3 separate regions of the Homo sapiens genome follow, and all the other regions are reported to be linked to region 1. Evidence: microRNA targets listed by miRTarBase, many of them from high-throughput screens and not tested one by one. Region 1 holds a microRNA gene; each other region holds the end of a gene's coding sequence.
What was found. The annotated mature microRNA hsa-miR-3650 reads AGGUGUGUCUGUAGAGUCC and lies in region 1 at 2,145-2,163, shown strand. An mRNA with a match to its seed (bases 2 to 7 or 8) in the 3' UTR can be bound and repressed. Matches are read on the target gene's strand: a 7mer-m8 pairs with bases 2 to 8, a 7mer-A1 pairs with bases 2 to 7 and ends in A, and an 8mer does both.

Region 1 (3,000 bases):
TACTTCAGTTTTGTGACTTACTCTGTTTCATTATTTTATTTATTCAACAAACACTTATGGAGATAAGGCTCGTTGTATTATGCAATATAAGCATCAAACAAAGTACGTTCTTGTTCTGATACTTATTTTGCAACACTTCATGAAATTGCAAAAAGTAAATATTATATAAATTAGAATTTACAACACAGACTGGTCTATGACAAAGTAAGTAAAAATAGTCTCAATCCATGAGACTTGAAATTGAGCTGAAATTCCTTCAGGAGTCCATATGGATTAATTCAGATTTTTATACAACAGATAAGAAAAATTTATTCTTGACAGCACAGACAGCAGTCAGGTGCCCCAAGCTGGGTTATGGCCTGGTCAAATATTGCTAACATATTTTTAAAGCTCTTGCTTTGTTACAGAAACTCCGTTTTTCCTCACGAAACAGTGCGTATACCGCAACTCTTCAAATTGTACCTCAGTATGGTGTAAGGAATGTGGTGTTCCTTAGAAGCTGTGGCAAATCCCTAAATTTCTTACCTGTAAAATGGGTATACATGGAAGGCAGGTCTTCTGTGAAGCTCACACAGCATAAACTTTCGGGCATCTTCTCTAGGCCTCCATCCCAGGCCTTGGCAGGAGCCTTGGCGATACATTCACCTGGTCATATGTTTATGTACAATTTGCAAAAGCAATATATTGTCACCACAATTAGCTGAGACTGAGGTCTCTTTCCACTAGGACTTTCCCTCTGCCATTTTCCCTTCTATTGGGTGGTGCTAGGGCAGCCTGGACATGCTGTGGGATAGGGTCAGGCTTTGTGTTCCTACCCAAACCTCATCTTGAATTGTAATCCTCACTTGTTAGGGAGAGAAATGACTTGATTATGGGGACAGTTTTCCCGTGTTGTTCTCGTGATAGTAACTGAATTCTCACGCGATCTGACGGTTTTGTGTTTGGCAAGTTCCTCCGCTCACAATTCTTTCCGCTTCCTTGTGAAGAAGGTACTTGCTTCTCCTTCCACCACGATTGTTAAGTTTCCTGAGGTCTCCCCAGCCATGTGGAACTGTGAGTCAATTAAACCTCTTTCCTTTATAAATTACCCAGTCTCGCGCAGTTCTTTATAGCAGTGTGAGAACGGACTAATACACAGTATTTGCTTTTTCTTTAAGAGGACCACCCAAATTGCATAAATTGCAGGCCCCACAAAACCTGCATTACCCCCTAAGTGTGAGAATAGTACCTATTTCACAGGTGTGCTGTGAGGATTAAGAGGTAATGGACACATGGTGTGTATCAGGTGGATGTTAGCCATTATCACTACTCTGAATCTCCATCTTTCTATTATAGCAAGGCCACAGAAATGAGCATTTTATGTAATATTCTTAAAACTAAATTCTTCTCATGGAATGGGATTTTTCAACCCCAGGCAACAGGGCCACATCATGTTTTTCTTGGGCTCTAGGCCTTTTTGCCTTCGTTGAGCCCCTTACTCCATTAAAATATATATACATATACACACACACATATATACATACATTTTAAGATTGTATTAGCACAAAAACAAATATATTAATATATATTAAAATACTTTCTTAAACCTAAATTTTTTTTCCTTCTGATTTGAAAAGAAATTAAAATATTTTTTGTGGGCCTCTAAAAATATTGTGGACCTTAGGCACTGTGCCTAATGGAAAAGACAGTGACAGGATTGTGCAATATGAATAATGATAAATTTCCCAAACCATCAAGGACTCAAGAATAAGGGTAAACATCTTAAATGGGGTTGGTTTCGAGTACTTATAATAGAAAAATGTTATCCAAACAAGGTCTTAGGGGTAACAGGAGGCGTTTTTAGTGTTCAAAATACGCACATGGATGGAGTTGGCCATTAGGACGCTAATAGCGACCGTATCTAGCTGTGAAATACATATTTTTGTTTTGGGAGTCTACTTTTCAGTAAATGTCCTTTCAGGTGTTTTGTTGCCCATTTAATTACATGATCAACAAGGAAGAGTTATTTTACAAAACAAGCTTCATTTTGCCAATTTATAAATTGCTTTGGAGTTTCATCGAAAGGTCTTTAAAAAACACGTTGGCCTTGGTGCTGGTGCATCACATAAATCACAGATGAAACAAACAAGCCTGTTTCCTACTCAAGGTGTGTCTGTAGAGTCCTGACTGCGTGCCAGGGGCTCTGTCTGGCACATTTCTGAACTTTGCAAAATTAATTGTGCCGAAGAGAACACCATCAAACGCGTCCGGCATACAGCGTAAACATCTTCAGACCGTGATTCTGCGCCATCAAACGCTCTCCAGCTAATTTCATTTGGTGATTACTCTGCTAGAAAACCGAGGCCAAGTGAAACTGCGGAAATGGGAACAATGTACGGAGGAAAAATCTCACCCCATTAAGAGATCCGTTTCTTCTCCGCACAAATAAGCCCACCCCGCCTCCGAGGCAAGACTAGATGGCTCCAGGATACTCTCGGCGCGCCCGCTGGCCATCTCGGGCAGGGGAGCCCCACACCCGGCAGGAGGACCAGGACGCGAGCGGCGGCGCCTCGGCCCTGGGCTGTTTAGGTAATTCGCAAAGTCCCAACAATCATCCCCCTCTCCCAGAAGCTGGTTTTCTTGTGTGCAGTGGTTACAGAGGCGGCGAAAACACGGTTCCCCGCTTTCCTCTCCTCAAGGCACTGTTTGCAGCGGCAGCAGCGGCCGCATTCGGGGAGGCGCGGTCCTCCCCGCAGAGCCGTCGCGCACTCGGCCTTTCTCGAGGATTTGCCTGGGCTCGGCCGCCTCGCTCTCCCCTGCGCTTCCATGACCTTCTGAGAGCGGCCTCACCACCGGAGGCTCGGAGGAAGCACCACCCTCGGCGTCCGGGGCCCGTCGCGCGGCCGCGTTCCTCCGACTCCTTGGAGCACCCGCGCGCGCGGGCGCGCGGCCGGGGATCGGCGGGGGCGCGCGGGTTGGGGCGGGGCCGGGGCCGGGGGCAGGGGCGGGTCAGGGGCGGGG
Region 2 (3,357 bases), not on the chromosome of region 1:
TATCCACGAACTTGTCTCCTGAGCCACCTACGATTTCTATACAACCCACGTGTATTAAGGTTTGTCAGCTGTAAGCCAATGGAGTATACAATTATGGAATTCTTTCTTTTCATCAAATGAAGTTTTAACTACAATTTGTCAAGGTAAACTGTGGCAATGGAATCCTGATGAAGGACTGGACATGAATAAAGCACCATTTGCTTTAATTTGGATACAACTTAAAGAGGAATAGCCTGAGCTTGATGAGTTTACTTTATAATCTTTTTCAGATCCCATCAACATGTCTCTGAGAGTGTTCTGTCTACTATGTGTTATTACAACAAAACATAGAAATCATTTAGGGAGACATTTTCCTCTACGAGTGCGGTTGTTGCTCAATTAGATCAGCCAGAAAAAAACCGATTTGTCATATTCAAAATACTAAATATTGATATACACAGTGTTAATTTATTATGTTATATAAAAGCATTGATTTGCAAGGTTTCAAAATTAAAAACAAAACTGAGCTTCACCACAATTTGAGAGCCACTGCTCTAATGGGAATTCCCAGGCAGGGATGGAAAAGGGTGTGTGTGTGTGTGTGTGTGTGTGTAACTGTGTAGCCAAACATAAAGGGAAGAGATAAAACAGCTCCCTTTCAGCAATAAAACCACAATTGTGTTGGATAATTATATATTGCACAGTCTCCATCGTAAACAAAAACAATTTGTTTCCATTTTGGTTGAAATGAAAACTAACTATTTCTCTTTTCCAGGCTGGCTTTGCTGCCTGGTCAGTGAGCTCAGGCCACTAATGAATGGCTGGCATCCCAGCGTCTACCCACAAAAGACCCACTCTGACCTCCCAGAGCGAAACCCCACTGTTTAAAGGGCACAGAGGGCAAAGCCCTGGTGGCTTCCCTCCTTCCCCCCCTCCATCTCACACCCGTCTTCCTGTAAACCTTTTTGCTTGTAGAGAACCTGCCTAGAAGGTGAGCATGGCCCAAAGTATGCCCCGACCACCACAGAAAGGCATTGCACCCAGCGCAGCTCTGGGGAAAATCGGAGCCTCCACCCAATAGCCCGAAGCCCGCCCTTTCCTTTGGAATCCACTAGTCCTAGGCCTGGCCGTTGAACTTTGGTTTTAATTTGCTCGTGCCACAGGGTGACTGACATGGGTTTTTTCCTTCTTGCTAGAATACAATTGCAAAGCGAGTCTTCATGTCCATGATGAGGAGGCCCTCTATGGAACTCTGTGTCATTTGGAAGATCCCCAGTGGTGATGGGTAAGAATAACAGCTGGCAGTGGGCCTTCCAACAGGTCTTTGGGGAAGGCAGAATTTAGAGCTGGGGGCCTCTGATCATGCTAGTCCCTCACACACCATTTCTCAGCGTGCCCTGAAGGGCAGAGTCAGTAAATGTGACCCCAAAGTCTGGAAGAAGGCATTCCCGTTTCTCTGGTTTAGAAAGGGGCTGCAGGCCAAGATAAGAGACCATTTGGAATGTGTCAGTTTGTGACTTTCACAACGTCCGATTAATTTGTCTTCTTTAATGTGTAAACTGCCAACATGACTTCCTGATTCTCTCATCTTTCTCGATTTCCCTTTTCATGGGATTTCTGAAAAGGGGTGACCCGTTGGTTTGTTGAGCACTCGTGGGTCACAGTTATGGGTAGAAACCAGGTCCCTTTAAGTGAAAGCTCACTGGCTTCACCTGGCCTGTCCCCCTGCCTGTATTTTGCTGGAAAAGCCTCCTTGGGATCACCACTGATGAGCGTATCATGCCACCATAGGATTTGATGCCTATCACTTGGTCTTCAATCCATCAAAAGAAAGGTGCTGGTCTCTGGTCCTGCCTGGAGTCAATGCAGACCTCAGCATTTGCTCTACTTTAAATTTTCTCTGAAGGTGAAGACAATGCTGCATCAAGCCAACCTACAAGTCCCTGCCCAGGGGAAGGTGTATTGCAATACGAGGCGCCCTAAAACCCATCCATAACCTTGGTGGATTCCACAAAATGAAAAATACTATAAGCTGCCGTTACACACGCTCTCCAATGCAAATTCCCTTCCCTAAAGATGCAGCTTATTTTCTTTTTATTGTATTTAATTCCGAAAGAATGGTCACACTTCTTTGCTAGGTAGGCAAGATGTTCCGGAGGACACACTAGAGAAAGCACCACTCCCCACCCTAACCCACATCCCCAACACACTCACCTGCCCACACTCACACAATCACATACACATGCCCACACTTATATACACATGCTGACACCCGTGCACTCATGTGCACACACTCATTCACACTCATACATATTCACACTCAGGCATACTCATACTCCTCATGAGCACACCACACTCACCTGTGCACACTCACCTGTGCACACTCACACACATGCAGACACTCATGGGCACACTCACACATGCTCACATGCTCATTTGCACCCAGACACAGGCATACACATCATTTGTATGCACACACGCACACTTTTTAACGTGGTAACGATTTACAGGAAAGAACAGCTGGAACTCGTGCTGGGATAACCAGGTACAAGTGCTCTCTGCAGAGAATAAGTGCACACAGGTTGGTGTCTTCTGACCGAGAGCCCTCCTGAAGGGAGGTCTGTACCTCCTCCCTCATCTCATTTTACACAAGGCGACAGGTCAGAGGCCAGGGTGGGACGAGAGCGAGGGAGCACTGTCTCTGGCAGCAGCACTTGCCACTCCACAATGTGGAGACCAGAACGGCACCCCAGAGAGCACAGGGGAAATGGCTCATCTTTAAAACAATGGCAGAAGAAATCCAGCCAAGGTCACTTTTCCTGTGTGAGCATGTTTAAGGCCAGAGAGTGGCTACTTCTCTGCCTCCTGCAGCTCCCTCAGTGTGGCTTGGAGGAGTTGGCGAAGCTTCCAGAACACGCTGGAGGCTGCTCTCCGGGTGTTCCCACTGGGGACCCCAGGGTCTGCACATTCCTGCACCGCCTCCTGTAACTGCAGCTGAAGCTGGAAAGAGACCGCAGAGCTCTTGAGAGGCGCGGAAAACCAATGGCGAAATATTTTGTCACAGATGACCTGAGGGAAAGAAGGGTGGACAGTTAATTTAGGGCAGCAAATCCTCCTAAAAGCTTCCCAAGCCCAGGATTGGTTCTGAAACAGATTTCAGCTTCTCTCCCACCCCCACCCCCGTCCTTCAGGGAGCACACTCCAGAGACCATCCGATTTGGAAACATGCCTTCACTTCTGCCCCTTAAACCCTTCAGCACCATGAACAAAAGACGCCTCCGAGAGGAGAAGCCAACATCTGTGTGAGGCAGAAACTTCCCTTTCCAGCCCCCTAGCAGATGGACAAAGTTCTGGGTGACACTGTAAAAGGACTGGACA
Region 3 (3,357 bases), not on the chromosome of region 1:
AATATCAAGGTATCAATGTATTCACTGAATTCTTCCTTTCACTCACTCTTCACTTCAGAACGTATATATTTCTTCCTTCCAAATTAACCAGTATACATAAGGGCTAAAACTATGGATTTCAGAACCAGTATGCCAAGTTTTGGTGCAATTTCCAGTTTGACCACTGTGACTTTGGGCAAGTTTCTGCTTCTATTTTTTTCAACGAAACAACCCAGTGAAAAAAATGTTTCCCTTTAAAAATCTAGGCAATTAGTAACACTACCACCACCACAATGACAAAAATACTTCTGGTTTTAGCTTTTGATCTTTGGTGATCTAACTTGAGATGCTCTTTAATCTTGGGGAATAACATTTAGAAGATTAAAGCTGTAGTCCAATAATGAAAACCCTTGGACTCTTGAGAAAACACATGCTAACTTGTATTTATAAGATGTGAAACTCATTACCCATTTACTTCAGATAAGTGCTCAACATCTTACAGATTGATCTTGTCACTAATTTCCTATTCTCAGAGCTAGATTTATGTAATTTGTTTTCATGTAAGTTTAGGCTTACTTGAAAGTATTCTACTCTTCGCACTAATACTGAATAAGTAAGATTTGTGACTAAAAAACTTAAGAATCACCATTTGACCTTTTATAAGGTCTGATGAAGGTAAAGGTTAGAGGATAAAAGCTTTTATTTAACAGATTCCTTCTCAGACAAATTATGGCAAGCACTGGAGCATAAATTCCTTCGTGGTATTCCTTCGTGGTCTCCTAGATACTGCTGGTAGTTCAATAAATACCCTTGGAGGCCAAATCAGGACTGTTTTACAAAATGTGCTGGGCATATTAGTGGTACATAAGATGATTTTAGCTAGTTCACAGATGTACATTTGTTTCAATAGTTGAATATTGAACATTTAAAAATATATATAAAAAAAAATAACTAGAACATCACACTCTTGATTTCATCGACATAACTGCCAAGAAAAGTGAGGGTAGCATATTTACAGTAATTCACCACAAAGCCCACTCACAGGTATGAAGACCAGGGATGCTCACCAGTACCCAGAGGACCAGATGATTGATGGGTTCTACCACGAGCATCTAATAGCGACTGCTGCAGAACTGGTGTGGAAAAGGTTTCTATTTTATAAAAGAAAGTATCCAGAAGGCTAAAGGCAGTTGTGGAATTTATTTCTTCCCAGTGCTCTGATTGTCAAAATTTGAATAAAGCTCAGTGAAAGGAGGACAGTAATTAATGACTTGATAGCCAAACATCGTAATGATGATTTAGTGATATACTAGACTGGATGAAAGAGAGGTCACTGTCTTTTCACTATGGATTCATCATAAACAGTATCATTCTTCTCAGGAAGAAACTTATTTTTAGAACTATATTTTAATAAATTTCTCACATTCTAATATTTAATTTTTATTTTTTAAATTTTATTACCTGCTAGGTATGATGTGTAAAATGATTTTCCATTTATAGTAATGGTATAGTTTCCTTTTTATAAAAGGTTTATAAAGTTTATGTAAAAAGTCAACTTAAAAATACCAAGTTAATTCAGTCAGTTCAAAAAGTTTTGAATAATTAAACTTGGAAAGTCACTGCAATAAAGCCAAAGCAAGTTAATGGTCATAATTATAAGACTTAGCTTTTTAAAATAAAACTCTCAACTGTGTCTACCCTTTTAATTTTTTTTCTTTCTTCCCCCTAACTTTACAGTTAACCGACAGCGAGACCAAGTCAAACGTACGTACATCAATCTTAAATTGTTTCATTAAGAGCTATGTGAATTCTGTCAGTGCATTATGAGGAACAATGTCTAAGAGGATATTCTATGTTTGTTTCACAGGTTACTACTCTGTTGTATATCCAGGCTGGCCCATATATCCACGTAACAGATACACTTCTCTCTTTCTCATTGTTAATTCAGTAATTCTAATACTGTCTGTTATAATTACCATTTTGGTACAGCACAAGTACCCTAATTTAGTTCTTTTGGACTAATACAATTCAGGAAAGAAAAAACCCAAAAACCAACCTCATTCACATATGGCTTTTTTTTTAACCAATAACAATTAGGTGTACTTCTATTTTAAAACATTTCAGAAAAAAATATATGTTATAGCAATACTCTTACTCAAAAGAAGAAATTTCCTAACTCTATCAGATAAACTCATCTTTAGTATAAATAAGCATTATTTGCAGGTTGCCACAGGTGGACTTTTAGTAAGTAACCTAACCCATGTTTCAGCTTCTAAATCTGCAAAATGAGCAAGGTACAGTAGCACATTTTTAGGTGATTCTTAGTAACTCCAGTAGCCTTCATTAGTTAAAAACATTATTATTTTTTGCATGCTGCTTCGACTCTAAATATCTGGTTTTCCCTGTCTTTTTGGTTTACTACTTCCCCAGATTCAGAACAGAGGAGTAACTAGGGGATCTGATTTTAGAGGCCTTAATTTTCTGTTCATGGACTGTTAAAAGTAAAACCAAACTTTCAAAAGGGATAAACCTAAATATTTACTTGTTATCATTAGAGAGGGAACATCAAATGCTGGGACATCATTACTAACCAATAGCATCAGACACTGGATTTAATGGATAATCACAATGGTCGTAATGTATACAAAGACTTATATACCACTTTCTCGTATAAATTTTTCAAAAAATACAATAATAATATAATTTATAAAGAACACTCTTCTATGAACAACCACCACCACCAAAAAAAAAAAAAGCCCTCAGAAAATTTCTCACAAATAAGGCAACTAATGCCTGATATCTCAAAATCCTTTACAAAAGGAGATAGTTCTAGTCAAGGAGTTTTGGGTATGTTACTTTTTTTTCTTCTTTTTCTTTTCATCTGCCTCCATCTTAAGTGCAATTTCTTCAGCTGTAAGAGCTCCCAGTTTCTTATTCTTTGCTTTCTTAACCTTTTCCTTGATGCTGGCCACATCAATTTTAGTTTCAGTAGAAGCTAGACAAATTAAAAGCACAACACATGTAATACTTTAGATTTTACCAAGTAAAACAAAGAATATATGTTTAACAAAGAATATATGTTTAAGGCAGTTAACTTCAGAGTATTCTTATAATTGAATAATTGAAAGGTGATCACAGTATAAAATATAAAAACACTTGCCTAAAGCAGTTAGAAATTTCTTCAGATTAAGATAAAACAAATCATAAAATACTTTATATATTAGTACAAGTATACATAAAAATGGCATAAATGGCATAATTGAACCAATTACTGGATTCAACTATATTAAGACTATTTCCTTAAATCCTACTTCAGACTAAATTATTTTACCTACATTCTTTTCCATATTTTGGAACTTCTGAGTCATTATTTTCCAT

Region 2: the mRNA of DIPK1C is a reported target of hsa-miR-3650. The part of its 3' UTR that is shown has no 7-base or 8-base seed match.
Region 3: the mRNA of KRR1 is a reported target of hsa-miR-3650. Seed matches in the 3' UTR shown: 7mer-A1 at 1,114-1,120.

Annotation. Positions count from the first base shown.
Region 1 is chr5:38,556,703-38,559,702 of GRCh38, reverse strand. MIR3650 (microRNA 3650) reads left to right here and starts at 2,142; the gene lies at 2,142-2,201. LIFR-AS1 (LIFR antisense RNA 1) reads right to left here and starts at 2,917. Exons shown (of 9, transcript NR_103554.1): 1 at 526-2,917. It also overlaps a transcript of LIFR not described here. RefSeq lists enhancers at 2,671-2,780, 2,133-2,916.
Region 2 is chr18:74,433,672-74,437,028 of GRCh38, forward strand. DIPK1C (divergent protein kinase domain 1C) reads right to left here. Exons shown (of 4, transcript NM_001044369.3): 4 at 1,104-3,048. The coding sequence ends at 2,830. Among named protein-coding and RNA genes, the nearest start is that of DIPK1C, 22 kb to the right of the region's middle.
Region 3 is chr12:75,496,978-75,500,334 of GRCh38, forward strand. It overlaps KRR1 (KRR1 small subunit processome component), which reads right to left. Exons shown (of 10, transcript NM_007043.7): 10 at 1-2,974. The coding sequence ends at 2,832. It overlaps GLIPR1 (GLI pathogenesis related 1), which reads left to right. Exons shown (of 6, transcript NM_006851.3): 5 at 1,717-1,743; 6 at 1,847-3,357. The coding sequence ends at 2,001. Among named protein-coding and RNA genes, the nearest start is that of GLIPR1-AS1, 8.8 kb to the left of the region's middle.